Regions from separate parts of the Homo sapiens genome. Here region 1 is linked to region 2. Evidence: fine-mapped expression QTL. A gene starts in region 2. The other region holds a variant in brackets. All regions are shown on one strand. Distances are between the middles of the regions.

Region 1 (15,490 bases), 23 kb after region 2:
AAAGGCAAAACAATGACAAAACAATTTTCTTTATTACATAGAAATACTAGGCTCACTCTAGAAAGGGACATGAGTACAATAGTAGTGAATGGTGATCTTTCTAAAAGCATTGTCAAGGTAATTCTTCTAAGCATTGCCTAAACATGTTCAGTATGAAGAATTTTATCTTCTGTGGCAGGAGTACCAGGCATCTCTCTTTCCTAAGATAGTTTCTTTAACTCTTAGCTCTGTCAGTTTCTAAAAACTGAGCTGGAACAATGTCAGAAGCTGGCCTTTGTTACCAGTGTTTCTTCCCTCACACTGCATTCTAGTTTTCACCTGTTGTCCCTTGGATCTTCCTGTGAACATGGCCATGTAACTTTGCAGTCCCTCCCGCCCGGCAGTGAGGTCTATTTCCTCACACTATGAATGCTGGGCTTGGCCCTATGACTCAGTTTAGCCAATGGCATGTCAGGGGACGTGATACAAGCAAAGGCTTGAAATGCATCTGCACATTTGGCTTGTCCTCTTACCCTCTCACAGCCCTGCCATTGCCATAAGAAAAACAAGTCCCAGCCAGCCTGCTGGTCCAAGAAGAGTGAGACAGGCCTGGAACCAACCTTCAGTGTGGAGTCATGCCCAGTCAAGCCCAGGCTAGACCAACTGACCTGCAGTCACAAGTGATAACACCTTTGCTGTTTAAACTAAGTTTTGGAGGGGTTTGTTACACAGCAGTACTAACTGATAAATATCCAACCCTGTCACCTTTGGTATACTGTAGATAAAGCTGTTTTTAAAAAAAAGTAATAATCTGGCTGGCCACAGTCACTCATGTCTGTAATCCCAGCACATTGGGAGGCTGAGGCAGGAGGATCATTTGAGGTCAGGAGTTTGAGACCAGCCTAGGCAACATAGCAAGACCGCAGTCTCTAAAAAATGAAAGTAATAATCCACAAATATATACATAAATGCATATGAAGTAGTATGTAAATTTATAGAAATACATATAATTAAATTTATTGGAGGAGAATATGCTAACTTAATTCAGTGGCTTTTTCCTTCCTTGATATTTTTAAATGGTTTATCTTTGAATACAATAGAAGTTGATTTTAAAATTCCAAGTGGTTTACTTGTCCAAATAGGCTTTTTTTCTTTTTTTTCTTTTGTTTTTCTCATAGAGACAGGGTCTCATTATGTTGCCCAGGCTGGTCTCAAACTCCTGGCCTAAAACGATCCTCCCACCTCAGCCTCCCAAACTGCTGGGATTACAGATGTGAGCCTCCATGCCCAGCCAGCTTTTTTACAACACATAAAAAATATAATGCAAACAGCTGGGCATAGGTTTAAATTTTTTGGCTGAGCACAGTGGCTCACACCTGTAATCCCAGCACTTTGGGAGGCCGAGGTGGGCAGATCACAAGGTCAGGAGCTTGAGACCACCCTGGCTAACACGATGAAACCCCGTCTCTACTAAAAATACAAAAAATTAGCCGGGCATGGTGGTGGGCGCCTGTAGTCCCAGCTACTCGGGAGGCTGAGGCAGGAGAATGGCATGAACCCTGGAGGTGGAGCTTGCAGTGAGCCGAGGTCATGCCACCGCACTCCAGCCTGGGCAACAGAGCGAGACTCTGTCTCAAAAAACATATATATAGAGAGCAAACAAAAACATTTATTTATTTATTTATTTTTATTTTTTGAAACAGAGTCTTGCCCTGTTGCCCAGGCAGGAGTGCAATGGCACGATCTCGGCTCGCTGCAACCTCTGCCTCCCAGGTTCAAGCGATTCTCCTGACTTAGCCTCCCAAGTAGCTGGGACTATAGGCGTGCACTGCTACGCCTGGCTAATTTTCGTATTTTTGGTAGAGATGGGGTTCCACCATGTTGGCCAGGCTGGACTAGAACTCCTGACCTCAAGTGATCCACCCACCTTCACCCCCAAAAGTGCTGGGATTACAGGTGTGAGCCACCGTGCCCGGCCAAAAAATTTAAACCTTAATAAATGAGTTGCTCTTTTATACCTGTATGCAGGCAATATGATGAAATAGTACAAGAATTTTATCAAGTTATAAATGCTTGTTTGGTTACTAACCTGAGTGATAAAATAATCTGTACCAGAAACCCCTATGACACGAGTTTACCTATGTAACAAACCTGCACCTATACCCCTGAATCTAAAATTAAAGTTTAAAAAAAAAGAAAAAGAAAAAGAAATCTTTGGAGCAGAAAAGCATAGAAACAATGTCCATGTCAGTTGGAAGTAGAGGTGTAGTCTCTGCCTATATAACTATTTCCATTCATTGAGTATTACAGACCAAAAATAAGATAAAATCCACTCTTTTTTATATCAGGAGGAATACCATTTAAACGCAGGTGATCACTCTATTCACTCCTGATTTTTCCCTTGCACTTCCTGCAGGCGTAGTTAGAAGACTAGCAAAATAATATAGTTCGCAGAATTCATTGAAAAACATCATCTAGTGGTACTTTTTAACAGAATCAATTTATTGTATTTTAAGCCATAAAAGATTATTCACTGTATCCACTGAGGCCCACATTTGACTGCAAGTAGCAGAAACCCTCTACTAACTATAGCTTAAGTCATAAGGATGGTTTACTCTTTACTTAACAAGAAACTCAGAGAAAGTCCATATCAGGATTGGTCTGCCAGCTTCATAAAAACTCATTAGACTCAGGCTCTTTCTGTCTTCTCATTTTGCATATTGGCTTATCATCCTCATGCGTGTACTCATGGTTGCAAGGTGGCTGCTGTAGTTCCAAGTATCACATGCAAATTCAAGGCAGAAAGAAGGGGAAGGGACTGAGTCAGCCCCTACTTTATCATGTATCAAGAAAGCAGAAGCTCTCCAGAAGCCTCCCTGAAGACTTCTCTGCATCTTATTGGCAAGAAAGGCAACACATGTCCATGGAACACATGTCCTAGCTTAAAGGGCAGCTGGGATATTTACAAGGAAAGAGAATGAGCTTGTCATGATTTCAAATATCAAGAATGATCTCCTCAGGCTGGGCACACTGTTGTCCTGAGCAAAGTCAGGGTTCTGTTAGCAGAAAGAAGAGAGGAAATGACTCTAAGGTACCCAAGCATCATCTGCACGTTGCCTTAGCTGCCCTTAAACACATTGCCTTCTCAATCTAATGGAAGCAGGAAAACAGAAAACACAGAATTGTGATTTTACCTTTTTGAGGGAAGTGGGGATACCTGAGCTTCTTTGAGCATCTGAGTAAGCAACAGACACTAATTCACCCCCAAATTTTCCAACAAGGAATTTTGGGGGATGTCCAGAGCTCCTAAAACCCATCTGTGGGTGACTACATGAAGAAGGCCGACCTAAAGTCAGCCCAGTCTTTCAACCTGGTCTTCCATAGTATACAGCTCCTGGGTTGTTCTGCTTTTTCCAGTTGGTTGTGTTGTGAGTCTGTTGGTTGCTGATTCTGTAAGAGGTAGTATAATTCCTTCTCTCTGTAACTGAGCTTGTAACTGGAAAAAATGACAATGCCTAAAATCGTATAACAAGAAAAATGGAATTTTCACTATTTCATGGTTCATTATGTTGAAAATAAAAAGACCAAAAGTTAAAAACTGAGTTCCTATTTCAAAGCACTATCAAACATCTAATTGCAAAATATTATATACAGGAAACTGCAGGGGTCTAATCCCTGCTGACAAAGAATTTATAATCTGAGACAATCTAGTGATAATCTCACTTGGGTTATCAAATGGGGGCAGGGCAGCAGATAATATTAAGTTATTAAATAAGGTAAGATTACTTTTAGAAGTATAAACTATTTTGAAAATGCAAAGTTCTGAAATAAGTCCAAACTCCATATTCTGACAAGTAAAATCAGAGATTGCCAATGTCTCTAATTATATCTGCTAAACAGATAGTGTACATACTTTGATTATGAAATAATGACATTGATTCTCAGGCGTGATTTGCAGAAATCAGTATCCTTACTTTGCAAACACACTTGGTAATGTGAGACAAATTTCTGGCAGCAGAATGATGATTCAAAATTCATTCTTAGGCAGAGAGAAAAGTATATAAAGGGAGTAGAACAAAAATTGTGGGAAATATGTGAAAATAATTTTTTTTTTGACTGGAGTAGGATAATTTGCTTTTCCATTTTATTTCCTTGTCAGTCCCAGTAAAGCAGTATCACGTGCAACTTTGTGCTTTTTTAAATATCTAAGCTTCTGGTTCAACTCTTCACATTGCTTCTCTAACAACAGACATTCTCCATGGCTCGTTTTCTTGCTTTCTGCTGAATTCTGTACTTTGTACTATTAATAGTTTTGATTTTGTGAAGACCTGAATCATTCTGTAAGCAGCTATGAAATATCTCCCGTGGCTTTCTGGCCTGGGGCAGATGGGAAAATTAACTCCAAGGAGAAAAGAGCACCCTAAACTGCCTTTTCTCAGGCAGACAGCCATTGATGTGATTTCAGTGAAAACCATCAAGCTGAAACATCAATATTCCTCCACCCTTGGTCCACAGAGCAGGCAGGGCTCATTAGCAAGCAGAGCCTCAGCTGGGTTCCATCTTGGGCCGGTCTGGGCTAAGGTTTCAACCCGGAGGCTGTGAGATCCTGTTTCCTCCACGTCTGAGCCCAGTTACCTAACCAGGTGCTTGTTGGAGGCTGCCTGCAATTGCAGCCCTTACTTTGGCCTCTTATTTCCTTCTGGCTCAGCCTCTAGCTCGACTCCAGCTGGCCTAGGTTGCTCCTGAGCACCAGTGGAATTGAGATAAATCACCCCAACCTTTACAGGCCTTCTTCGTAGGATGGAGAAAGGTCTGGGTCCCTGGGAAAACCGTAAAAATTGCCCTCTAAACATAATCAAAACTACAGTAACTTCACATCTATTTTTTCTTTTTGTATTTCATCCATGCTTTCTTTTTTCCCTTTTGTGACACAAATTTTTAGCAGAAACCTGACATTCTAGTAATCTAAAAGCTATTTTACTGTGGTATTAAAGACGTCCTATATAACAGAACTTGTGGTTCGTTTCATGAAAATTTATTTCCATACATACGAACTAACAATTTCAAAAACTCCAATGCATATAAAATTAATAAACCTGAACACTGCTTCACAGAACAACCATGGTGAAATCTACAAATTGAAATCGCTGTTGCAGCCCAGATATATGCACATTTTAAAGCCAGATGGCTTTCCTAACCAAATAAATGTCAGCCCTATAGTGAGAGGTCTTAGTACAAGGGTGGGAGGCACTGTAAGGACAAGTTCAGGCGTTGTTTAGGGTATCTGGGTTAAAACAACAGCAGAAGGTCAAGAGTTAGGTCCGTGGAACTATCCTGACGGGACAGACCAGAGTGGGCAAGATTCAGAGTAACCAAAGACGGCTCAGGTAGGAGAGAACCCTGGAGAAGAGACAGAGGGGGAACCAGCAACTACTGAGCACTGGATATATGCCAAGTGTTTACTGCTTGCTCTACATATATCAATTCTTTTTTTTTTAATTCATTTATTTTTTTTGAGATGGCATCTCACTCTGTTGCCAAGGCTGGAGTGCAGTGGCGCAATCTCTGCTCACTACAACCTCCGCCTCCCAGGTTCAAGCAATTCTCGGGCCTCAGCCTCCTGAGTAGCTGGGACTACAGGCATGTGCCACCACGCCTGGCTACTTTTTATATTTTTAGTAAAGACAGGGTTTCACCATGTTGGCCATACTGGTCTCAAACTCCTGACCTCAGGTGATCCGGCCACCTCAGCCTCCCAAAGTGCTGGGATCACAGGCCTGAGCCACCGCACCTGGCCTCAGTTCATTTAATCTCATGTTTAGCATGTGAGGGGGGTAGGTCTCCCCTTTTACACGTGGAGAAACTGGGTTGTATGGGAATTCCTTGGTCAGAAGCCTCCAGCCTATGAGTCCTCCGATGGTATAGATCCTATTCTCCATTTTATTTCCATCGTTCTGCACTGTGCCTTATACATAGAAGGCACTTAATAAACACTTGTTGCATAAGCAACCCTCCCTGACTGTCTTCCTGGTGAAACCTACCTGTTGGAGCAGATGGTACTGGACTTTAACAAGACTTAAGTAATTAAGGGTGCTCTGTTTCCTTTGAGTCTGGGGATCATTCATAAGCCTCCAGTGCCCTGATACAAATCAGGACCACATGCTCTGGACACATCTGAGTCTGAGCCGGTGTATTCACATCACGAAGGGGCTCCTAAGGTCAGGATCCTGGTTCGGCAGTCCAGGCTCTACAGTTGGTATCTCAATCTCACTTCATCCATTTTCTCTAAGCAAGGGAAGCACATGACATCTAGTATCTTCTCTCCATCTGACTTATTGCCCTCCCCACTCCTGGTGTCTTAGCAATCATATTGTGTCCTGTCTCACCAGGAACGTTTGATAAGATCATTCAGAACAAATGCAGATCACCAAAGGGATTATAGTTCTATTAATTTTGATTTTACATCTACGTTAGTCAAATTGATTCCTTCTGGGCTGAGATCTATGTGCATTTCACAATCGCTGTAACAGAAAACAGATCATCTTTTCATTTTCTGCTGTGACTTATTCAATTATACCTCTTTGCATCTAGAAAAAGCAAAAAGATTGTTTCTCAAAACAACTGAGCAGCTGAGGTGACTATCCGCGATTATGTGGGGTGATCACCAGTTTCCTTACAGCTGATGCCATCAAGTTTTTGGTGCTCCCTACCCACTTCCAACACCAACACACACACACACACACACACCCCACCTCCACCACCCCGTTTCAGTCCTTAAAGGGTCCTATAGCATATATTAAACTAATTTTTGTTTTACTTTTCAATTTTGAAAAAGTTATAGACTGAGAAAAAAAGTTGGCAAAATAGTACAAAGAATTCCCATATATCCTTCACCCAGATTCCCCATTGTTAACATTTTACCACACTGGCTTTAGCATTCTTTCTTTCTCACCCTCTGTTTCTCTCTCTTTTTTTTTTTTTTCCTTTTTTTTTTTGAGACAGTCTCGCTCTGTCACCCAGGCTGGAGTACAATGGCACCATCTTGGCTCACTGCAACCTCAGCCTCCCGGGTTCAAATGAGTCTCCTGCCTCAGCCTCCTGAGTAGCTGGGACTATAGGCGTGCACCACCATGCCTGGCTAAGTTTTGTATTTTTAGTAGAGAAGGGATTTTGCCATATTGATCAGGCTGGTCTTGAACTCCTGACCTCAAGCCATCCACCTGCCTCGGCCTCCCAAAGTGCTGGGATTACAGGCATAAGCCACCA[C/T]GCCCAGCCATGTGTGTGTATTTGTAATATGCATGAATACACAGTATCAAAACACAACTAGTCAGTTCAGCTAAAGGATAAACCAGTATTTCACGTTTCTACACACTAGATGTATCGCACCACAAAGCATAAGGCATCACACTAAATGCCAAGCCATACAAGAATTGTCTTGTAGACAGCACATGGGGTGAGAATGATTTGCTCCCTCCCCAGACCTTGGAAATAAGAGGAAACAGATGTCTCCAAAGAGGTAGGCTGGGAAAATCAGGTGGATCAAAACAAGCCTCCCGCAAAGGACTCACTCAGCTTTATATGCACATATCCGGCAGCCTGCCCGGGGTCCACACCTGTGGGCTGCGGGTCCTCCTGTGTTCCCTGCTCTACTTGGTGACACTGCCACAATTTCCTGGACTCACCCTCACATTTTCTTTCATCTCCAGCTTCCAGTCAGTTACCCAATTCTGCTCATCTTAGGACCTATTTCTCAAATCCCGGATTGGGGGCAGGGCTAGAGACCACTCCGGAGATGACAGAGCAGTCCCAGTGAGAGACAGAATGAGGGCCTTTTATTTGGAAGGGCTTATTCAAAAGACACCCAAAGGTGAGAATTTAAGGAGACACCATCCAGGAAGCTACCCTGCTAAGGTCTTATGTGTGTGTGGTGTGGTTGTTTGCTGTTACACTGTATCTTGTGAGATTAGTGCTAGCTAGTGTAATAGCTTGGTGTGTAAGGAATTTGGGAAGTGGAATTCTAAATGGATAGCCTGCCACCACCATGAAAGCCCCTTACAGGAACCACCCAAGTCCCCTGGCAGTTTGTCAGAGTGAAGGAAAAGACCCCAGAAAGCGGCACTCGGGAACAGCCAGCAGAACTCACCGGCCAACCCCTAGGAATCTACCTACACTCATCTCCAAATTGCCAAGCAATATCTACACATTTTGTTGCATTAAAGGTGAGCGTTAAGCACAGATGTGTGGGATAATCATTGTTTGTAGACACTCTGAATAAGATCAAGCCTGAACCAGAAAGGAGTTGTGATGAGGATGAGAAGAGAGAAATTCTAAACTCTAAAGACGAAACGGGCTGAACTCAGTGACTGAATGGGAGAAGGAGCAGGATGAGCAGAGGGAGGAAACCTGTCCTTGTTGAGCCTCTGCTATTCGCCAGGTGCTTGTCGGATACTTTCCATATTTAACAGTATTGATGCGAGACAGCCATCATTCCTCCCATTCTGTGGATGAAATATTGACTTTCAGAGAGGTGAAGTGATTTTCCCAGGATCACACAGCTAACAAGGAATAGGACTGCCTGATAACTTGTATCCTTATTCCTTTTTTTCTTTTTAAGTAGTACAATTTAGTCTTCGAATGAATTTTTAAACAAAAGACCAACATGAAAACAGATCAGCTCTGGTCGAAAAGCGGTGAGGGAAAAGGCAAAACTAAGGAGACGGTGAAAAGATCAGCAGGTGCCAGGATCTGGGAGGAGGCAGGGACAGAGCCCAGAGGATTTTTGAGGCAGTGAAACTACTATTATGACTCAACCAAGAGTATTCCCTAATTAACCTATGGCCTGTGGGTGATAATGACATGTGATGTATCTTCATCAATCGTAACAAACGCACCGCTCTGATGCAAGATGTTGATGGTGTAGGAGGCTGGGGGAGTGGGGCAAAGGGCAGGGAGTATATGGGAAGCTTCCACTTTCTACTGAATTTTGCTGTGAACCTAAAAAGGCTCTAAAAACATAAAGTCTGTTTAAAAAAAAATTAAATAAGGGGTCCAAAGTTTCCCCCCCTTCTTAACTCACTCCTCCCTTTGGGTGGTCCCTGATGCCACCAAAGGTCTTCAAGGGCTTGAACATGTACAATATGAAAGCCACTGCCCCGGCTGGGCACTGTGGCTCACACCTGTAATCCCAGCACTTTGGGAGGCCGAGGCAGGCGGATCACCTGAGGTCAGGAGTTCAAGGCCAGCCTGGCCAACATGGTGAAACCCCGTCTCTACTAAAAATACAAAATTTAGCCGGGCGGGGTGGCAGGCACCTGTAATCCCAGCTACTCAGGAGGCTAAGGCAGGAGAATTGCATGAACCTGGAAGGTGGAGGTTGCAGTGAGCCGAAATCATGCCACTGCACTCCAGCCTGGGTGACAGAGTGAGACTCCAGCTCAAAAATAACAACAACAACAAAAAAAAGCCACAGCCTCACAATCCCCCACCCCCACCCCACAAGGAGAGCAAGAACCCAAAAGCAGCCCTCTCCAAATGGTTGCTGCACCATTCTCTCTTCTAAGCACCTGTTTCTGGCACCCTTCTAAGCAGCCTTTCTTTCTTCTAAACATCCTCCCCCAAACAGGTAGCAGGAATCTGTCTTCCAGAGGGTGGTCCTTGCAGGTGCTAGCACCACCTGAGACCTTCCAGCTCATAAAAAGCTCACCTACCCTGTCAGAGGAAAGGGAACCAGATAACCAAGATGGTCCAGCCTCACTGCTGCAGCCTCCAGGGGCCTCCTCAGGCCCACACAGTGGGAAAAAGAATATCTAAAGACAGAGACATGACACAAATGGCTCCAAGACTCAGAGCTCCCACACCTCCTACAGTTCAGAAAGGAGAAAGAAAGAGGGGGAATACAGAAGTTTTCACAGCTCCATCTCTCAAGACTGCAGGCATCAACAGCCAACACAATGCTGACCCCCAGAAAGCATTTAACAAAGGCATGCTGACTAAGGAATTGCTAGGTGCTTCAGGGAGAATCTTTCCCCATCAGCTAGGGGATCACTGAACATAGTATAACAGTTGTAACAAATGATTCCAAGCAGGGAGAGGAAGTATCTCTTCCAGTCTCCTGAGCTGTGATTCAGGGGTGATGAAGATTCTGGGGGGAAAACTGGTTTGAAGAAGCCCTCCTTGTCATATAGAACCCTTGGGGGCTGCAGTAGCTCTTCTGGGTCCCAGTATATCAGTAACTGTCCTGAGGAATCATGTTTTCTACAACCTAATCTTGTTAATCAATATGAACAGAGGGGCCGGTCATGGTGGCTCAGGCTTGTAATCCCAGCACTTTGGGAGGCAGAGGCGGGTGAGGAGTTTAAGACCAGCCTGGCCAACATGGTGAAATCCCATCTCTGCTAAAAATACAAAAATTAGCAGGGCATGGTGGCATGCACCTATAGTCCCAGCTACTCAGGAGGCTGAGGCAGGAGAGTCGCTTGAGCTTGGGAGGCGGAGCTTGCAGTGAGCCTAGATCGTGCCACTGCACTCCAGCCTGGGTGACAGAGTGAGACTCCATCTCAAAAAAAAAAAAAAAAAAAAAAAAAAAAAAAGAACAGAGGGAAGCAATGGCTCCGAATATCTCAAATAACTTTCTAAATCCACTAATATTTTGGCTTAACAGTGAATTACATGATTTCTAGTAGGTTCACATTCACTTATCCTATTAAACATTGTTGAGCTGGATTGTATGTTCCAATCATGGCTCAGCACTTTCTCCCAACTCACATGCTTTTCTGCATTCACCTTGCTACACCTCCTTAATGGGTTTGACTAATAGAAGGTAGCAGAACAGATGCCACACCCATTCCCAGCCAGGGCCTTACTGGCACAGCAGTCTCTACTTCCTGCCTCTTTGGAGTGACACTGCCATGCTTTGATAATTCCACACCACAGAGAGGCCATGAGCTGGTCCACACCCTAGCTGAGCCCCCAGCCAGTGACGGCATCAACTGCAGCCATGTGAGTGCATCATCTTGGATGCAGCCCTGTTGAGCCTTCAGGTGATGCCAGCTCCAGCCACTCTCTGCAGTACCCTGAGTGAGAAGGACTCCAGTGAGCCCAGTCAACCCAACAGAGACATGAGAGGTGTATTTGTTTGCTGGAGCTGCTATAACAAGGTATCACGCTGTGTGGCTTAAAACAGCACGATTTCATTGTGTTACAGTTCTAAAGGCTAACAGTCTAAAATCAAGGTGTTGGCAGGACCATGCTCTTTCTGAGGGCTCTAGGGGAGGACCCTTTTTTCGTCTGTTGCAGCTTCTGGTAGCCCCGGGCATTCCCTAGTTTGTGGCAGCATCACTCCAATCTCTGCCTCAATCTTCATGTGGCCGTCTTCTCCCTGTGTCCAAATTTCCCTCTTCTTATAATGACATCAGTCATACTGGATTAGCACCCCCACCCCCCAATGACTTCATCTTAATTTGATTACATCACAAAGACCCTATTTCCAAATAAGGTCCCCTTCACAGATACAGTAGTGGAGGTCAGGGCCTCAACATGTCGTTTTGGGGGATACAATTCAATCTATAATGAGAGATCATGGTATAATGAATTGTTGTCTCTCCATTTTGGAGAAGTTCATGATGTAACAGAAGAAGCCAGTACACTGGCTGACATTCCTCCAGTGCATACCTGGTCATGCCAGGGACACAAGCTGGATGTCTAAGGGTGCTTAAATCATAGCTGCCAGTCTATGATTTAAAAGTGCAGGTTACTGAAACATATTGCTCAGAAGTTTGCGTGACTTGGTTTTCATATAGAGTTGTGTGTTGTTTTTTTTTTATAAGGTGTTCTGTTCATTAATCTCTGTGTAATTTTTTTTTTAATTCAAGATCTTTACTCTAAACCTGTTCTCTATAAAGAGCAATGGCCGGGAGTCAGAGGATGTGTGTCTGTCCCTGACTAACTGCATGATCTCAGGCAAATCCAAGTCTCTCTCGGGATTAGCTTCGTTCATTCAGCACCTTTTTACTAGAATCCTGAAATACGTTTGAGGTGAAACGGGATTTAGGGGTTCATACAGCCCAGCCCCTAACTTTACAGATCAGGAAGCTGAGCCCTGGGGAAGTTAAGGGGCCTGCCTGGTCCTCAACCGGTTGTATTCTGATAGTATTCACCTGTAAAATGTGTTTGGAACACAGTTTCTCAAAGGTTCTTTCCAATTGTTAAACTGAATTTGATTCTTAAACTGTGGATCTGTATTTTACCCATTTCAAATTAAAAGAAAGATACTACATTCGATTCAGCTGAATGCATTTCTGAGGCTCAGAAATTATGACTGCAAAATCATGTCACCACAATTTCCTTTACTTTGATGCTTATGAATTAGGAAGCCAGTGAATAGAAAGTTTCATCAAACCATCAAAAGCTAAAATGATTTATTTCTGTACTTTCAGTGTTCATGACTTTGAAGGTTCTGTTTTTACTAATCTTAGCAATGTCTTCATACTTTTAAAAGCCCCCAAAATACCTGGTTATGGCAAAGTTGAGTCACAGGGCTCATGTGCAATAAAGCTCAGCCCTGGAAAGTGTACCCATGCCTGGTTTAATAGCAAAAGGTAATATGAGACTAACATACCAAAAAAGGGTGAGTGTTCACTCGTAAGTCATCTCCTGTGAAATAGGAAGAAATCTTAAATGTCGTTTGGATATGTGTTGGGGTTGTTTCTTTGAAACATACATCTGATTCGTTCTCCAATTATGCCTGGTCCCAGAGTCTAAGGCTTTAACAATCTGCAGGAACATTTATGTGAATGAATTGCTTTTAGAAATGAAAGGCACATTGTATAAGATATAAGATAGTGACATAAGCATGTGCGGGGTAAAAAGACATTTTTATAGTGTATCATGGGAAGTCTTGGATAACTGGGATTAACATGCAGGGTTTAAGACCGTTATGTTCTGCCATGGTAGCAAAACCTGATAATACGAATTAAAATGAACAATCGTAAAATGCAAACATGTTTGCCACATAATCAGGGCGTAAGATCAATCATGTTGGCTCTGCTTGTTGAGTATCTGTGTCAGGAGCCCACATGGAAACAGAAAGGAATGATTCTTTGTTCCTGGGCAGAGGAATAGCTTCTGCCACTCTGTTCCCAAATCTTTGTTAAATTATTTGTTGATGGTTCATCTCCTCGTCTAGGCTGTGAGTGTCTGTGGGAGAGAAACTGTCTTAATTCTCTTCATTATCAGGGCCTGCCTGCACCTTGTGTACTAAAGGTGGCCAAGAGCCATATCTCCAGGCCCTGCCTGGCAGCAGAAGCAGTGGCGGGACTGCGATGGGAGAGGTGGCTGCAATCCTGGGGGGCTTGAGACAGACAGATTCTGCCCCCAGAAAGCTACCGGTAGTTAACAGGTGTGTTCTGTAGCCATACCTCTCCCCACCCAGCCCTGTCTTCGGTGCAATGCCGTTCATGCCTCGGTGCTGTCCAGGGAAGCTCTGGCCTCAGTGGCTGCAAGTCCTCAGCTTCCCGCAGCCTCCCCCGCAGCACCTGCTGCGGACTCAGACAAACCAAGAGCACTGAGTTTTCGGAGATTGAGAGCATGACTCACACATTCCAATTATGACACAGAGGGAAGTATTCTCAAGAAAGAGAGCTAGGGAAGTAAAGACTTTATTGGGCCCCTGTTTGGGCACACTACCATGTGGCCCCCTCTGGTGCCACCTGCCAAGGGCCTTTCCCCGCTGATGGGAGGGTCTGCCCCTGGCCTTGCCCAGGCATTTCTGCACCTCCTCCACTGAGGCCAGCATTCCAGCTGGGCCCACAGCCACCCTTCACCCCTCTCCCAGTTCCTAGAACAGGAACACGCTGTTGTGGTTCCCTGCAGCAAGTCAGGTGCCAGGTGCATGGGCCCCACTGCTCCGGGTCTGGACAGGAAGGCAAGGACCAGCTGGACAGTTACTTTTTAAGGTGAAGGTGGAATTTGTTGGGTGACATCCCCCCAGTAGTTCCTGCCAATGCCTGAGCTGACTGCACTGTGGCTACCTTATAACTCAGACTAGAAGCTCCTTTGTGAATCGTCTTTTCCCCTCCTCCCTGATCATTTTTATTTAATACCCGTGAACAAATGGGAGCCTAGTTCTGCTTTTCTTTTTTTTTTTTTTCTTTTTTTTTTTGAGATGGAGTCTGGAGTGCAGTGGTGCAACCTTGGCTCATTACAACCTCCGCGTCCCGGGTTCAAGCAATTCTCCTGCCTCAGCCTCCCAAATGGCAGGGACTACAGGTGCCTGTCACCATGCCCCACTAATTTTTGTATTTTTAGTAGAGATGGGATTTCACCATGTTGGCCAGGCTGGTCTTGAACTCCTGACCTCAGGTGATCCACCCACCTCAGCCTCCCAAAGTGCTGGAATTACAGATGTGAGCCACCATGCCCAGCCTGCCACTGCTTTATATTAAGGGCATCTAGTAGGGGCCCAGTCAATATCAGTGAAACCAACGAAGCGATTCCTAACATTTGCATCACACTTTCCACTTTACAAAGCAGCTTCCTGGAATCGTCTCTGAAGAGTTAGGACCTGCCCTTCACTCAGGTACCTGGCAGTTCAAAGTTCCTGGTGAGCCCCACTCTTCGGAGAAGGAGGAGGAAATGTGAGGGGTGTTGCCTCGGGCTCCACTGCAGAAATAAAAAGACTGAGAAGAACGCTCTGGGGCTCTCAGTGACCTTTGACGGAGAGGTTCAACTATCAGGTGCCTCTGTGGGTTAGGCGCTCTCCATACCAAAAATCACACTTATCCTCGCACAGCCATAGGAAGAGGGCATTATCCCCACTCCACAGAGGGGAAAATGACAGTCTGAAGATATTAAATAGCTTTCCCAGCCTTGCTCAATGACTCACGCCTGTAATCCCAGCACTTTGGGAGGCTGAGGCGGGAGGATCATTTAAGGTCAGGAGTTCAAGACCTGCCTGGGCAACATAGTGAGACACCTCCCCCCACCATCTCCACCAAAAAAAATTTTTTTTTAATTAAAAACCAGGCCAGGTGCAGTGGCTCACGCTTATAATCCCAGTACTTTGGGAGGCTAAGGTGGGTGGGTCACCTGAGGTCAGGAGTTTGAGACCAGTCTGGCCATCATGATGAAATCCCATCTCTACTAAAAATACAAAAATTAGCGGGGCGTGGTGGCACACACCTGTAGTCCCAGCTACTTGGGAAGCTGAGGGAGGAGAATCACTTGAACCAGCGAGTTGGAGATTGCAGTGAGCCGAGATCATGCCACTACACTCCAGCCTGGGTGACAGAGCAAGACTTCGTCTCAAAAAAAAAAAAATCAAATTAAAAGATTTTTTAAAAATAGCTTTCCCAAGCTCACACAGCTAAGAAGTAACAAAGCTAGGCTTTAAGCCCCAGTCCTGCAGACTGCAGAGAATAATTTATGTTTCATTTGATTACATCACTAAGCTTCATTCCCTTGTGCTCATTCTTATTTTGTTTATCCAGAAGCCTTACAAAGTTAAAGGATTAGA
Region 2 (15,490 bases):
TACTTTCTGTCTCCATAGAGTTGCCTCTTCTAACTACCTCATATAAATGAGATCATACAATTTTGTATTTTTGTACAAAAGGTTGTATCTGGCTTATTTCACTAAGCATAATATTCTCCAGCTCCATCCATGTATCAGAATTTCACTCCTTTTATGTCTGAATTATTTTGAAATCTTTTTACTTTTATTTTGAAATTTCACTCCTTTTACGTCTTTATTTCACTCCTTTTATGTTTTCATTGGTTTATATACCACATTTTGTTAATTCGCCTGTTGGCAGACACAAGGTGGTTCTTACAAATATTAAAAACAAAAGCTGGGTGCAGTGGGTCACACCTATAATCCCAGCACTTTGGGAGGCTGAGGTAGGTGGATCTCTTGAGTTCAGGAGTTCAAGACCAGCCTGGGCAACATGGCAAAACCCTGTCTCTACAAAAAATACAAAAATTAGCCAGGCGTGGTGGCATGCACTTGTAGTCCCAGCTACTTGGGAGGCTGAGATGGAAGGATCGCTTGAGCCCAGGAGGCAGAGGTTGCAGTGAACTGAGATCACGCATCTGCACTCCAGCCTGGGTGACAACAAGACCCTGTCTCCAAAAAAAAATTTTTAATTTAAAAATGTTTAAAAAGTATCCAGGCCAGGCGTGCGCAGTAGCTCACGCCTGTAATCCCAGCACTTTGGGAGGCCGAGGCAGGCGGATCATCTGAGGTCAGCAGTTCGAGACTAGCTTGGCCAACGTGGTGAAACCCCATCTCAACTAAAAATACAAAAATTAGCCAGGTGTGGTGGTGCGTTCCCGTAATCCCAGCTACTCGGGAGGCTGAGGTAGGAGAATCGCTTGAACCCAGGAGGCAGAGGTTGCAGTGAGCCGAGATCACGCCACTGCACTCCAGCCTGGGCAACAAGTGTGAGACTCCATATCAAAAAACAAAAACAAAAACAAAAAACAAAAACAAAAACAACACAGCAGGGTGTGGTGGCTCACACCTATAATCCCACCACTTTGGGAGGACGAGGCAGGTCAATCACTTGAGGTCAGGAGTTCCAGACCAGCCTGGCCAACACAGTGAAACCCAGTTTCTACTAAAATATAAAAATTATCGGAGGCTGGGCACAGTGACTGACGCCTGTAATCCTAGTACTTTGGGAGGCCAGGGCAGGTGGATCACCTGAGGTCGGGAGTTCGAGACCAGCCTGGCCAACATGGTGAAATCCCATCACTACTAAAAATACAAAAATTAGCCAGGCCTGGTGGTGCATGCCTGTAATCCCAACTACTTGAGAGGTGAGGCAGGAGAATCATTTGAACCCAGGAGGTGGAGGTTGCAGTGAGCCAAGATGGTGCCACTGCACTCCAGTCTAGGTGACAGAGTGACACTGCATCTCAAAAAAATAAATAATAAATAATAAATAAATAAATTAGCCGAGCGTGGTGGCGCACGCTTGTAGTCCCAGCTACTCAGGAGGCTGAGGCACAAGAATCACTTTCGAGACTCCGTCTCAAAAAAAAAAAGTATCTGGGTCAAACACAATGGCTCAGCCTGTCATCCCTGTACTTTAAGAGGCCAAGGCAGGAGGATTGCCTGGAGCCAGGAGTTTGAGATCAACGTGGGCAACAAAGCAGGATCCCATCTCTACAAAAAATTAAAAAATTAAATAAGTCACCACAATGGTGTGCACTGGTAATACCAGTTACTCAGGAGGCTGAGACAGGAGGATCCCTTGAGCCCAGGAGTTTAAGGATGCAGTGAGCTATGATCTTGTTCTGTCTTGCTATTGTTAATGGAAAACAAGACCAATTATTAAGAAACTGCTAACCACATAATCTAAACACAAATTTGTCATATTTTTATACCAAGTAGTGGAACAGTGGCAAGATATGGAATGGTGCAACTATCTTAGAAATTTACCAGCTGTAACTTTTGAGGTATCACTAAATTTGCTAATCTGTATTTAAATCATTTTAAAAGAATGATGAAAAGCATCCCAATAAATGATCCAATTACACTGTCGCTACATCCTTCAGTTTTAGCTCCAAAACCTACCTCAATTTACTCCAATAAAGAACTCATGAATTATAACAAAACAGCTTTTCAGTTAAAAGATCTACTACCCTCTCTCGCCCTTTCCCTTCCTTATATTTTTGCAAAGAGATCATCAATATCAACATTAAATCAAATTAAGCAAATACTATTACTAAATATCCAGATGATTCATCAAGTTCTCTCCAGTTGTCCGAGTGTAATAGTTGCATCTAAAGGATATCTAATGTTTAGTACTACAGATTATAACTAGGAAAAACTTGGAACTTGTTCACCTTGACAACTATTTTTCTTTGTAATCATTCCCTATTAAAGAGGGAGAAAAACACATTTCAAAGTTCCTCACATGAATACTAACATATCCTGTTCACTTTGCAAGTTCCTTTGTCAAATTATTTCCCTACATTTTTCATATTTCCTTAATTCATTCAACTATATTTAAAACCCCTATTCTCTAGCAAATACCAACGTAGGTACTAGGTATACAAAGAAAAAAATAAGACAGAGCCTCTACCAGGAGGCACTTTGACTGTAGGGAAGAGAGGGATGCATAAACAAGTGATTACAATACAATTGAGTCATGCTACAATAAAATATGATAAAACCCTGTGGGAACACAAGAGTGGGAATTCAGGGAAGACCTCCAGAAGGTAAAGTATGTATCATCTGACCATGAACCTTTCTCTGAATTTAATGAATTGCTGCTGTTCACTTATGCTCTCCCCCGAAGATTTCACCTACTCATATAGAATCTATCATGATTTACAGAAAATTTGTCATCTATACTGATATAAAGACTTCAAGGCTAATCCATAAATCATTGCTAATTAACCACAGAATACATTATATTGGAGGATTTGTCCTTGTTGGTTTTTAAAAAGCAGATCAACTTTCTCAATCACTGCTCATGTAAAGGGTAATACTGAAATAAATTCAGAATCCTTGAGCACACTACCTCAAAAGAAGGAAGGTATCCTGGGAAAATTCCAGTATGACTTGGAGAAATTTGCCTAAAATTTTTAAATGGCCAACATAAAGATATTCACTTAAATGTATTTGTGCAAGGCAAAGCTAGGTATCAAAGTATCAGAACTTTTTCTAACTACACTAGATCAACAAGTGTGTTTTAAGTCACTGCTACTTAAACTGACTAAATACATTCTCAATTGTACCAGAAAATAATTTAATATGAATTTTTAAACCAATTCCCCAAAGAGATGTTTTTCAAAATATCTCATGGCAAGTACAAAGAATAGTAATTATCAAATACAGAGAACACTCAAGGGCAAAGTTAGAAATTTTTATCCTAGGCTGGGCGTGGTGGCTCACGTCTGGATCAGCATTTTGGGAGGCGGAGGCGGGTACATCACTTCAGGTCAGGAGTTCGAGACCAGCCTGGCCAACATGGTGAAACCCTGTCTCTGCTAAAAATACAAAAATTAGCCGGGTGTCGTGGTGCGTGCCTGTAGTTCCAGCTACTCGGGAGGCTGAGGCAGGGGAATTCCTTAAACCCGGGAGGCAGAGATTGTAGTGAGCCCAGATCCAGCCACTGCACTCCAGCCTGGACGACAGAGCAAGGCTCTGTCTCAAAAAAAAAAAAACATATACACACACACACACGCGCGCGCACACACACACACACACACACACACACATATGTATCCTAAAATATCCGAATTTCTGCCAAAAATCTGCATAACTACCTTATCTCATAATGGACAAGATTATTAATAGGATTTTTTAAATACAGAATTAATAGTAACTAATATAAACGTTACTTTTTTGTTATAATGTCTCAACACTTAGACCAGCACCTGGAATGCCCGTACAGTGGTGTCAACACTCTCCAAAATATATGTAATAAATTTATATTGCATTTATTTGTCTCCATTTTTATGAAACCTTAAGTTAGCAGATGCACATTAGATCTTTATCATATAGGACAGTGCAACCAGAAGAACGCCTATGTTTTTCTAACTTGTTTTCTTGGAATATATTCACTTTCCACAAAAACGAGAATTTAAGATGCAGTGTTCCTGTTTCCGGGAAACCTTAAATATTACATCACCCAACACACCTCCGAAAAGAGAGAACAAGACGCTTTATATCTATGACTAGAATCCTACCTATTCCTAACTTTAGAGACCATGAATAGAAAATTAAAATATATCTTAAATACTTGTTTTCCTGCAAATAAAATTACAAATAAACAAGTTAGGATTACACACTTGTACAGTATTCCTAAACATGAATTAGTTGCTAATGCTTATGAAGAGTAATAGAAAATAAACTCCAAAACCCCTAAAAGTATAAACTACATTCAATTGTGACAGCATTCGTGTTTTTCAAAGGTTTATTAAATGCTGTTTTATGATGACATCAAAACGCCACAAAATTAAACTAATAATAACTTGCTTGAACCCTAAAAAGCAAGCCTTTAAGTAAATAGCAAAGACACATTTTTATTTCCAAATGAATTTAAATGTTACAGATCCTGTGTGATAAAGGAAGTTTAACTGTGGACAGCACACGTTAAATTTCTTAGGCAACAAACATTTCTCCATGCAGTCTTTTCTGAATCACCAAAGCTATTGTTCACAGAAAACGAGACCAATTAATAAGAAACTGCTAACCGTATAATCTAAACACACATTTGTCATAGCCATTCTATTTTGATCACCTACTTCTACCACCTCATCCTCATTCAACCCGTCGGGATTTGGGGAATAATCTGGCTGAATGACAGTTGATTTCGTTAGCACCTGTCGCCATTCTCAGATGTATCACACAAGTTGGCCAAAACAGCTTGTAATGTTTAAGGATTACGATTCTTTAGAAAGTGGCAACTCACTAGGCGTTCACCAAGTTTTCCAAAAGATCGTGCTTCTCGATTCCTCCCGCTTTCAAAAAGTAACCCTGTGGCACAGATTTTTGGGGGGAACGGAAGGGGATGTACACAATGAAGTGGGAATTCAACAGGACGCCCTCCAGAAACACAATCAATAGAGAGCAGAGCAGCTCGACTCTTCCCTCAAACTTAGCATAAAGCCAGACCAGGCGGCGAGGGCAGCCCGCGACCGCCGGAGCTCAGGGGGATTTCGGGGTGCGTCGTGGGGAAACGTCAGAGGCGAAGCTACTCCGAGTTCCCCGCCGCGAACGTCGTCCCGCGAGCGCCGCGGCCCCAGCCCGGGGTCGGCGCGCCCGGGACCGGGGGCGTGCGCGAGGCGAGGGCCGAGCCCTGCCCACCCCGGCAGCGGCCCGCGCCTCCCCACGCCCCTCTCCCGCCCGCCGGCGGGCCCGGGTGTCATGCCCCTTCCCCTCGCGCCGAGCCCTCCGGAGACACAGTCCGTCCTTTGTCTGAGTGCGGACTCGGCGGCTGGGTCCCACCAACTTGTGTCTGTCCCGTCCCACCCGGGCGCTCCCGCCGCGGCCGCGCCACACAAAGGAGACTTGAGGCTCGAGCTGCCACCCTGGACCGGGCACCGGAACGCCCCGACCCCGGCCCCGGCGCCCCGGCCAGGACAAGCACCGGGAAAGGAGCCCCCCACACGCCCCCCGCCCCGCAGCTCCAGGGGTGTGCGCTGCCTCACTCGCAGGGTCCCGCGGGCCAGCCCGAAGCTCACAGCTCCTTCCGGGGAGGGGGGCTCTCCCCTCACCCTCCACCCCCCGCACGCCTACAAACGCGGCGCCCCGGTGAGCCCCGCTCGGCGATACCCGGGACCGGCACAGCAGTGGCGGGGAGGTCCTGGCGCCGCCGCCGCCGCCCGGTTCGCACTCCCGGAGCCCCGCCGGCCGGGCCGCCCGCAGCGGCGCGTTACCTTCGTCCCGCGCGCCGACTCGCGTTGTTCCCGCGCGTCGCCCCCGCGCGCCGCCGCCGCCGCCGCCGGGGCTCCACTGCCTTCTGAGTCCCACCGGGTGTCGGACGCGACCGGACCGAGCGCCAAACGCGGCAGCCCAATCGCCATCGCTTTTATTTGGCCCCCCCAGCCCAATCAAGCGCCGCCCCGATTGGCGGGACGCGAGGCGGGCGCCCGTCCAATCACAGGGCCCGCCGGGCTCGGAGGCGCCGAGCCAGCCCCACGCAGAGTGCGCTCAGGGCTCGTGGGCGGGCGGGCACTGGCAGCGCGTGCGCGCGCGGGCGGCGGCGGGGTTCGCTGTAAGGGACGCCACTGGCCGTGTGGAAGCGCCGCCGCCGTCTCTTTGTTCTTTCGCTGAACACACGGCGCCTCTCAGGAAGGCGGTGTGCAGGCACGCGGGGACCGGGAGACATCGCGGGGGCCCGGAGCCCGCCGCGGACGGGAGGCGGGGAGGATAGGTGGCGGGAACCGGCCGAAGGGCGGGACGAAGCGCCGGCGGCTCTTGGCGGGAACCGGCGCCGCAGAGTTCCCGGGCGGGGGAGGGGCGGGGCGGGTGCTGGAAGCCAAGTTTGAACCAGTTCAAAACTCGGGGGTGGTAACGGTTTTAACCGCCGCGCTCGTTTCCCCGCGCGCGGAGCCGAGGCCCGGGCTGGCCGCTCCTAGTGGTGCCCGGGGAGGGGAGGGCGCGGGCCCCGGAGGTCGGCTCAGCTGTGGCGCCGCGTTTGCCGGGAGACGCTCGCCCGGCCCGCGCGCTGCCGCCGGACCCGTTACTACTTTTTTTTTTTTCTCCTGAGACGGAGTTTCGCTCTGGTTGTCCAGGCTGGAGTGCAATGGCGCGATCTCGACTCACCGCAACCTCCGCCTTCCGGGTTCAAGCGATTCTCATGCCTCAGCCTCCCGAGTAGCTGGATTACAGGCATGCGCCACCACGCCCGGCTAATTTTCTATTTTTAGTAGAGACGGGTCTTGGTCAGGCTGGTCTCGAACTCCCGACTTCTGGTGATCCGCCCGCCTCGGCCTCCCAAAGTGCTGGGATTACAGGCGTGAGCCACCGCCGCCGACCCGGGCCCTGTTTGATTATGTCTGCTGCTGCCTTGGCCGTTTTTTCCCCCACCGCTGGACTTTGGCTGGCCGAGCTTGCAGTGCTTATCGCCCTAGAAACCTGTGAAAGGGCGACATTGCTGCCATTTCAGACCCTTCCACTGTTCGTAGTTCTAAGCACGTGTCAGTGTTAAAAATCCTTTATCAAGATGAGCACTGTTCACTTGCCGCCTCTGCAAAGTGTGAGGATATTTGCAAGGCGCGGTGGCTCACGCCTGTAATCCCAGCACTTTGGGAGGCCGAGGCGGGCGGATCATAAGGTCAGGAGATCGAGACCATCCTGGCTAATAACGGTGAAACCCCGTCTCTACTAAAAATACAAAAAATTAGCCGGGCGTGGTGGCGGGCGCCTGTAGTCCCAGCTACTCGGGAGGCTGAGGCAGGAGAATGGCGTGAACCCGGGAGGCGGAGCTTGCAGTGAGCCGAGATCACGCCACTGCACTCCAGCCTGGGCGACAGAGCGAGACTCCATCTCAAAAAAAAAAAAAAAATTGATCTTGGTTATGGGGGGTCAAGCTACCTCAACCCAGAGGAATTAGAGGGATTCTGCTTAGGATACAGTCTCTCCTATTGCTTCATGTGGCAATGCAGTTAAGAGTATTCCGAATTTATTTTTACTAGGATGTATCTATGGGGTAAAATACCATTGTCATGTAAACTGAGATTCCATATTGAGAGTTCATACTGGAAACTGAAAAAAGGTCACCTATGAACTGTTGGGGTAAAAATCTGAAGAAATATTTTTAATGAATTTAATAACTAGCCAGAATTTTTTTTTTTTTTTTTTTTTTAAGAAACGGAGTCTCACACTGTCGCCCAGGCTGGAGTGCAGTGGCACCATCTCAGCTCACTGCAAGCCCCGCCTCCCGGGTTCACACCATTCTCCTGCCTCAGCCTCCCGAGTAGCTGGGGACCACAGGTGCCTGCCACCACACCCGACTAATTTTTTGTGTTTTTAGTAGAGACGGGGTTTCACCGTGTTAGCCAGGATGGTCTCGATCTCCTGACTTTGTGATCCGCCCGTCTCGGCCTCCCAAAGTGCTGGGATTACAGGCGTGAGCCACTGCGCTGGGCCAGAATTTTTCATCAGATGATTTAGCCCATAATTTTCCCGCCTTTCCTAAATCACCATCCCATTCCTCACATATATTCTGAATCACTCCAATGTTGGAAAGTATATATAAAGGGAAGCTAAAAGATAAGGAGAAACAAGCAATCATGTGCCCAGATAAAAGCAAAATTGTCTTGTGAATCAGTGATAACACTGCAAAAAGTAAATAGGTTATGCAGCTGAGATGTGACTGTAAAATAACGTAACGAATTATAGCTGCCATTACTTCCAGTCACGAATACATTCATTCTCCAAGATAAAATGCATCTGTCTAGGCCACCAATTTACAATTTTTTAAAACCAGCAATTTAAACCTCAGAAATTAACTACTTATCCCTAAGTTGCTTATCAAATTACTGAACTTATCAGTCCTGTAATACTAAATATTAAAACAAGGCATTTTTAAGAGGAAGATCAACGAAATTAGAGACTACCATAAAGCAAATCAAAGCAGTATATAACTCTGCAACATGGTGTGAAATGTCATGTAAATTGCTAGACGTTTAGAATCAAGGAATGGATGGATCAAGATATTCCAGGCCAGACTTAGTGGTTCACACCTGTAACCCCAGTACTTTCAGAAGTCGAGGTGGGAAGCTCCGAGACCAGCCTGGGCAACATAGCAAGACCCTATCTCTACAAGAAATTTAAAAAATAACTGAGTGTGGTGGCACAGAAGTACCTATGGTCCCACCTGCCCCTGAGGCTGAGGTGAGGGGTCTGCTTGAGCTCAGGATCCCAAGGTTACCGTGAGCTATGATCACATCACTGTGCTCCAGCCTGAGCAACAGAGTGAGACCCTATCTCTTTAAAAAAAAAAAAAAGTGATTGGACAAAATATAATTATTGGCACCAAGTGAATGTTAGGAAAAAAAAAAAACACGTACAAAGAACTTTATAGAGCAGCCATTCCCACTGGGAAGAGTGTGTAGGTTGGACTCTAACCATTAAAGAGCTAGGTGGGATGATACTAAATATATATAACAGACATTTAATATAAATATGATATGAAGGCTAAGGTGAAAAGGGATGCCAGTGGATCACAGTATTTTCTTGATTCAATGATGACATTGTCCATTTAAGCAAGGTAGTTTAGGCCACAGTAATGGCAGAAAAAGGGGATAATTTGAAAATATTCCAGAAGGACTTCATTGTATGTGGGGTTCATGATGTCTCGCGACTCCTTTCCGTATATGACAAATACAGCAAAGTTAGGAGGGGGAAGAAGTATTTTGCTTTTGCTACCAAAAGAAAAACTGTCTGAAGATGTCTAACCCAGGAAAGCAAGAAAATATACAGGCCTATTTAACAGACCTCTATGACTATTTCAATGGGAAAAAAAATTTTTAATGTGTGTAATGAATAGTAAACATATAAGCAAGTGTGTGTGTGAATGCCAGTTACTCAAGGGGCCTAGATGAAGCAGAAAGCCAGGCTAAACACAAAGGTGGATATGGAGGTTGAGGGTCACCAAGCTTTTTCATTTCTGTAAAGATTGTTCTGTGTGAACAACAAAGATTTGGTATTAAAGTTAAAAGATGAAACGAAAAACAGTTAAGCCCCAAAGTTGTAACCCCAGGGCCTAGCGTGCCCGGCACATAGCTGATTCTCAGGGTTGTCCTGGGGGAACTGGAGAAGATGGAGTGCAAAGTTAAGGCTGTCAGCCAGCAAACTTCCCTTTCCATCCCTTCACTTCTCAGAACCTCCCTTTCAACCCCAAAAATGGGATTTACTTCCCACATATTATACAGCACTCATTTATGGAGTGCTTACTCTGTGAATGATGATTATACCGAACATGAGGTGGTGATAAAAATAAGGCATGGGAAGAGGGGAGTATTGGGTGCAATTGCTGTAATTTTAAAACAGCTTGGGGCTGGATGTGGTGGTTCACGCCTGTAATCCCAGCACTTTGGGGACCGAGATGGGAGGATTACTTGAGTTCACAAGTTCTAGATCAGCCTGAGCAACATAGCGAAACCTCATCTCTTCCAAAAATACCAAACTTAGCCGGTCATGGTGCCTATAGTCCCAGCTACTCTGGAGGCTGAGGTGGGAGGATCGCTTGAGGCTGGGAGGCGGAGGTTGCAGTGAGATGGGACCACAGCACTCCAGCCTGGGAATAAAATAATTTTTTAAAAGCCACTTGGTTAAGGAAGCCCTCATTTTGAAGGTGACATATGAAGAAAAACTTGAAGGAGCTGAGGGAGCATTTACTGAGAGAAGACTGTTCTAGGCAGAGAGAAGGGCCAGTCAGTGCCTGGGCCTGAGGCAGAAGCGTGGCTGATGTGCTCTGGCACAGGAAGGGGAAGAAAAGTGGGAAATGATGTTGAAGAATGGAGGCGGCACAAGCAGATTTTTCAGCTCCTTGTGGACCATAGTTAGGTCTTTATCTTTTATAAAATGAGAGGATTTTGAGTGGAAAGGCGATTTGATCATTTAAACAAGATCATTCTAGCTCCTGTGTTGAAAGGATCCTGAAGCGGAGCCGGGGCCAAATCAGAGAGGACAGTGATGAGTCCGTTGTAATAAGCCAGGCAAGAAATGATTGTGGCTCAGACCAAAGTGGTAGCAGTGAGCTGGTGGGAAGTGGAGTCTGGATATATTTTGAAGGTATAAGCAACAGAATTTCCTGACAGATTGGATATAGGATACAAGAAAGATTGCATGTAAGAAGTATCAGTTCTCAATACAAGAAGCCTGAGAAGGGATGAGCTCTCATGAAGAGCCAGAGTGGCATTATACTGCAGCCTGGAACACACCCCAGGCTGGGGTCAGGAGATGTGTGGCATGTCGAGAAACCTTCATAAAGATAACATAATTTTTGGTTGTGATTGAAATTAACCTGATCCTTTTCGGAACCAGCTTGAAAGAGTCACCTCTAGAAAACCCAAGGAAGGTGTGGTAGCCAGCCTCTAAAATGCTCCTTTTTGGCTTTGTTTTTATTTTTATTTTTTTGTTTTTTTGAGAGAGAGTCTCGCTCTGTTGGCCAGGCTGGAGTACGGTGGCACAATCTTGGCTCACTGCACCCTCCATCTCCTGGGCTCAAGCGGTTCTGCCTCAGCCTCCCGAGTAGCGGGGATTACAGGTGCGCGCCACCATGCTTGGCTAATTTTTGTACTTTTAGTAGAGATGGGGTTTCACCATGTTGGCCAGGCTGGTCTCGAACTCCTGACCTCAGGTGATCTGCCCGCCTCGGCCTCCCAAAGTGCTGGGATTACAGGCGTGAACCAACATACCTGGCCAATGCTCCCGTATTATTAATACCACCTCCTGGTATTCACTGCCTTGTGTAATCTTCTCCCTTGTTGTGGGCTAGACCTATTGACTTGCTTCTAATAGGATATGGCCACAAAAAGAATGGGATGTTATCCCCAAAATCACATAATGAGGAGATCGTGACCTCCCAGCTCCTGTATCCCTTCCTCTGGCTGTAACAAGCTGCTATTTCAGCTTTATCTCATAGCTCCACCACCCTAAGTTCCAGCCATATTGTATTACTCACTTTCCCAAACAGAGTTTCAGCTAAACTGATCAAGATGTTACCATTTTAAGACGTTTAAGAAAGAAATTTGATCAAACAAAATAAGTAGACTAAAATAGATAAAAGCCTTTAGACTATCTAGAAATTCCCTGGCTGTTTTAAACAAATTCAAGTGTGAAACTGAGGAGTACTTGGCCAAAATATGGTTACAAACAACCCCTGGGCAGAGTATCATTTTCCAGATGGGACACCTGTCTTGTAAAAGACTGTTGAGGATTTGGGGAAGCAAAGAACTTACCACTATTCTGGGCTGTAACAAAGGAGAAGCTCAATAAAGACTAAAAAATACTGTACAAAGAGAGGACATAGAGGATCACTTGAGCCCAGGAGTGCTGGGCTGTAGTGGGCTGTGTTGATCAGGTGTCTGCACCAAGTTGAGCATCAGTATGGTGAACTTCCAGGAACTAGAGACCACGAGGTTGCCTAAGGAGGGGTGAATCGACCCAGGTTGGAAATGGACCAGGTTAAAACTCCTGTGCTGATCACTGCTAGTGGGATTATGCCTGTGAATAGCCACTACCCTCCAGTTTGGGCAACAACATGACCCCATCTTTTTTTTTTTTTTAAAGTCCAGGCGTGGTGGCTCACACCTGTAATCCCAGCACTTTGGGAGGCTGAGGTGGGCTGATTGCCTGAGCTCAGGAATTCGAGACCAGCCTGGGCAACATGGTGAGACACCATCTCTACTAAAAACACAAAAATTAGCCAGGTGTGATGGCGCATGCCTATGGTCCTAGTTACTCGAGAGGCTGAGGTACGAGAATTGCTTGAACCTGGGCAGCAGAGGTTGCAATGAGCTGGGATCACGCCAGTGAACTCTAGCCTGGGCAAGAGAACAAGACTGCCTCAAAAAAAAAAAATGGTTTTAGGAAAGGATAAGACATGGAAACAAAACCGCACAATTGTATAAGTAATCATCAAGTATTAGAATTAATGAGTGAAGTTAACAAGGTCACTGGATACAAACTTAGTTTACAAAAAAGTCCATTTCTGTGTATAACAATAAAGAGGAAATTAAACTTTTAAAGTGATATATACCATTTACCTTTGGGAAAATATCAAATATCTAGTCATCTGATGAAAGATGTGTAAGACCTATGCACAAAGCATTACAAAACAATATTGAGGAAAACTTTTTTAAAGCCCTAAATAGAGGGAATGTCATTTTTATGATTTGGAAGATGCACAGATTCAACATGATGCCAATTAAAATCCCAGCAGGATTTGTGAGTGCGTTTGCATCTGTGTTGTGTGTAGAAATTGACAAGTTGATTCTAAAATACATGCAAAATGCAAAAGGCCGAAAAGAGCCAAGAGAATTAAAGAAGAATGAAACTGGGCAACTTTACTACCAAATATCAAAACCTGGCTGTTTATTTTACTTTTTATTTTTTTTGAAATGGAGTTTCACTCTTGTTGGACAGGCTGGAGTGCAATGGCATGGTCCTGGCTCACTGCAGCCTCCGCCTCCTGGATTCAAGCGTTTCTCCTGCCTCAGCCTCCCAAATAGCTGGGATTACAGGTGCCTGCCACCATGCCTGGCTAATTTTTGTATTTTTAGTAGAGATGGGGTTTCACCATGTTGGCCAGGCTGGTCTCGAACTCCTGACCTCAGGTGATCTGCCCGCCTCAGCCTCTCAAAGTGCTGGGATTATAGGCGTGAGCCACCATGCCCGGCCAAAACCTAGCTTTTTAAAGCTGTTGTAATTAAGACAGTGATACTGCCCCAAAGGTCAACAAATAGACCAATGGGAAACAAAGAGTCCAGAAACAGACTCATACCTATATGGTTTATAACAAAGGTGGCTTTTCAGTGCAGTTGGGAAAGGATCATCTTTTCAATAATTGGTTTTGGGTCAACTGGCTATCCTTACGGGGTGGGGAGGGGAAATCTTGACCCCTGCCTCAAACCAGATGAGTTGCTGGTCTAAATGTAAAAGAAAACAGAATGATTTTGGAATAGTCAAAAAGTTCTTAAACAGAATCAAAAATGTGCTCACCATAAACGGCCGGGTGCAGTGGCTCACGCCTACAGTCTTAGCACTTTGGGAGGCCAAGGCGGGTGGATTGCCTGCAGTCGTGAGTTCAAGACCAGCCTGTCCAACATGGTGAAACCTCGTCTCTACTAAAAATACAAAAATTAGCTGGGCGTGGTGGTGGGCACCTGTAATCCCAGCTACTCGGGAGGCTGAAGTACGAGAATCTCTTGAACCCGGGAGGCAGAGGTTGCAGTGAGCCAAGATCGTGCCATGCACTCCAGCATGGGCAACAGGACAAGACTCTGTCTCAAAAAAAAAAAAAAAAAGTGCTCACCATAAAGGAAATAAGTGGTATATTGATCAATTGATCGTATATTGATCAATTGTTCATATATTGATCTATATTAAATTTAAGACTTCTGTTTGTCAAAAGACACCATTAGGATATTCAAACGGCAGGCCAAAGAATAGGGGAAATTCACAATACACTTCCCTAACAAAACACTTGTCATACAGATCATATAAACCACAAGACGATTTGAAAAAGAAAATGTTAGGAAATGGCCAAAAGGGAGATACCCTTAATAAACTGGCACCTAAAAAAGTGGATATACAGATGTCCAATAAGCATATAAAAAGGTGCCCAGTTTCATTAGTTATCAGAGACATGCAAATAAAACCATAATGGAATACCACTATATACCTACCCAATGGCTAAAATGAAAAAATACAGAAGATACCAAGTGTAGGTAAGGATATGAAGCAGTGAAAATTTTTATGCACTGCTAATAGAAGTGCAAGTTGGTACAGCCACTTTGGAAATTTGAGAAGAGATAATACCTGTGAAACTTGAACAAATATGGAATACTCCATACCGTAGCCATTCTTCTAGGTGTAGCTCTAGCAAGTATATGTTTGTATGCATATACACTTAACAAACGACATGTACAAAAAAGTTCATAATGCAAACTGGAAACTATCCAAATGCCCATCAAAGGTAGAATGAATAAATTGTGGTTAATTTACATAATGGAATATCCTACAATGATGCAGAGAATCTATAGCTACATACAACAATGTGAATGAATCTGATAAATATAGTGTTAAGTGAAAGAAGACAGAGAATATTTATCTTATGATCTTGTTTATCTAAGTTTCTTAACAGTCCAGGCATGGTAGCTTGCACCTGTAATCCCAGCACTTTGGGAGGCTGAGGTGGGTAGGTCACCTGAGCTTAGGAGTTCGAGACCAGCATGGGCAATATGGTGAAACCCCATCTGTACAAAAAATATAAAAATTAGCAGGGCATGCTGGGTTGTGCCTGTAATACCAGCTGCGTGGGAGGCTGAGGTGGGAGGATCACTTGAGCCCAGGAGGTTGAGGCTGCAGTGAGCCATGATCAAACTTAACAAAAAAAAAAAAAATTGGAGGTATCTACAAAAGTAAATACTACAAGCATGTTTGATCACTGCACCTAAAAAGATGAAGAGAGAGAGAGTGAGGTAGGGGTTAGGGAGGGAAAAGAAAAGAGATTCCGTTAAATGAAGACAAGGGATTGATCTTTAGGCTGAAAATGCAAAGGTCAAGAAGTGAATCAAGTGTTCAAACTATCTGAAAATATATACTACCAGGATAAAATGAACACAGTTTCTTTTTCACTGATTTCCAGCGTGTTTCAATGAAAAAGCACTTCTTGCATTCTCTGCAATGTCTACTGATAACAGTTGAGAATTACTTGACTTGGTAACTAGCTTAAAGAACTCATTACCCCCCCCCCCAAAAAAAACAGTATAATTAGACAAACGTAAAACAGTTCAAAATGTTTGCAAAAATATTGGAAAATCTGGGCTGTACA

Which allele goes with the higher level. Positions count from the first base shown, and alleles are read on the strand shown. Sizes are in standard deviations (SD) of each study's normalised expression.
In carriers of allele T in region 1, the expression in esophagus mucosa of the gene that starts at base 5,989 in region 2 tends to be lower than with C alone (small effect, 0.22 SD a copy in GTEx).

Evidence for each region.
Region 1: its variant is fine-mapped to the expression of EZH2 in esophagus mucosa (GTEx, PIP above 0.99). The same link has a PIP of 0.9 or more in sun-exposed skin.

What each region holds. Positions count from the first base shown.
Region 1 is chr7:148,900,904-148,916,393 of GRCh38, forward strand. No RefSeq gene overlaps it. Among named protein-coding and RNA genes, the nearest start is that of EZH2, 24 kb to the left of the region's middle. The variant C/T (reference allele first, on the strand shown) is at 7,246.
Region 2 is chr7:148,878,303-148,893,792 of GRCh38, forward strand. EZH2 (enhancer of zeste 2 polycomb repressive complex 2 subunit) reads right to left here and starts at 5,989. Exons shown (of 20, transcript NM_004456.5): 1 at 5,862-5,989. It overlaps LOC124901767 (a long non-coding RNA gene), which reads left to right and starts at 6,887. Exons shown (of 2, transcript XR_007060579.1): 1 at 6,887-7,181; 2 at 8,055-9,494. It also overlaps the pseudogene RN7SL569P. RefSeq lists silencers at 5,153-5,742, 5,903-6,272, 6,393-6,622 and an enhancer at 5,243-5,934.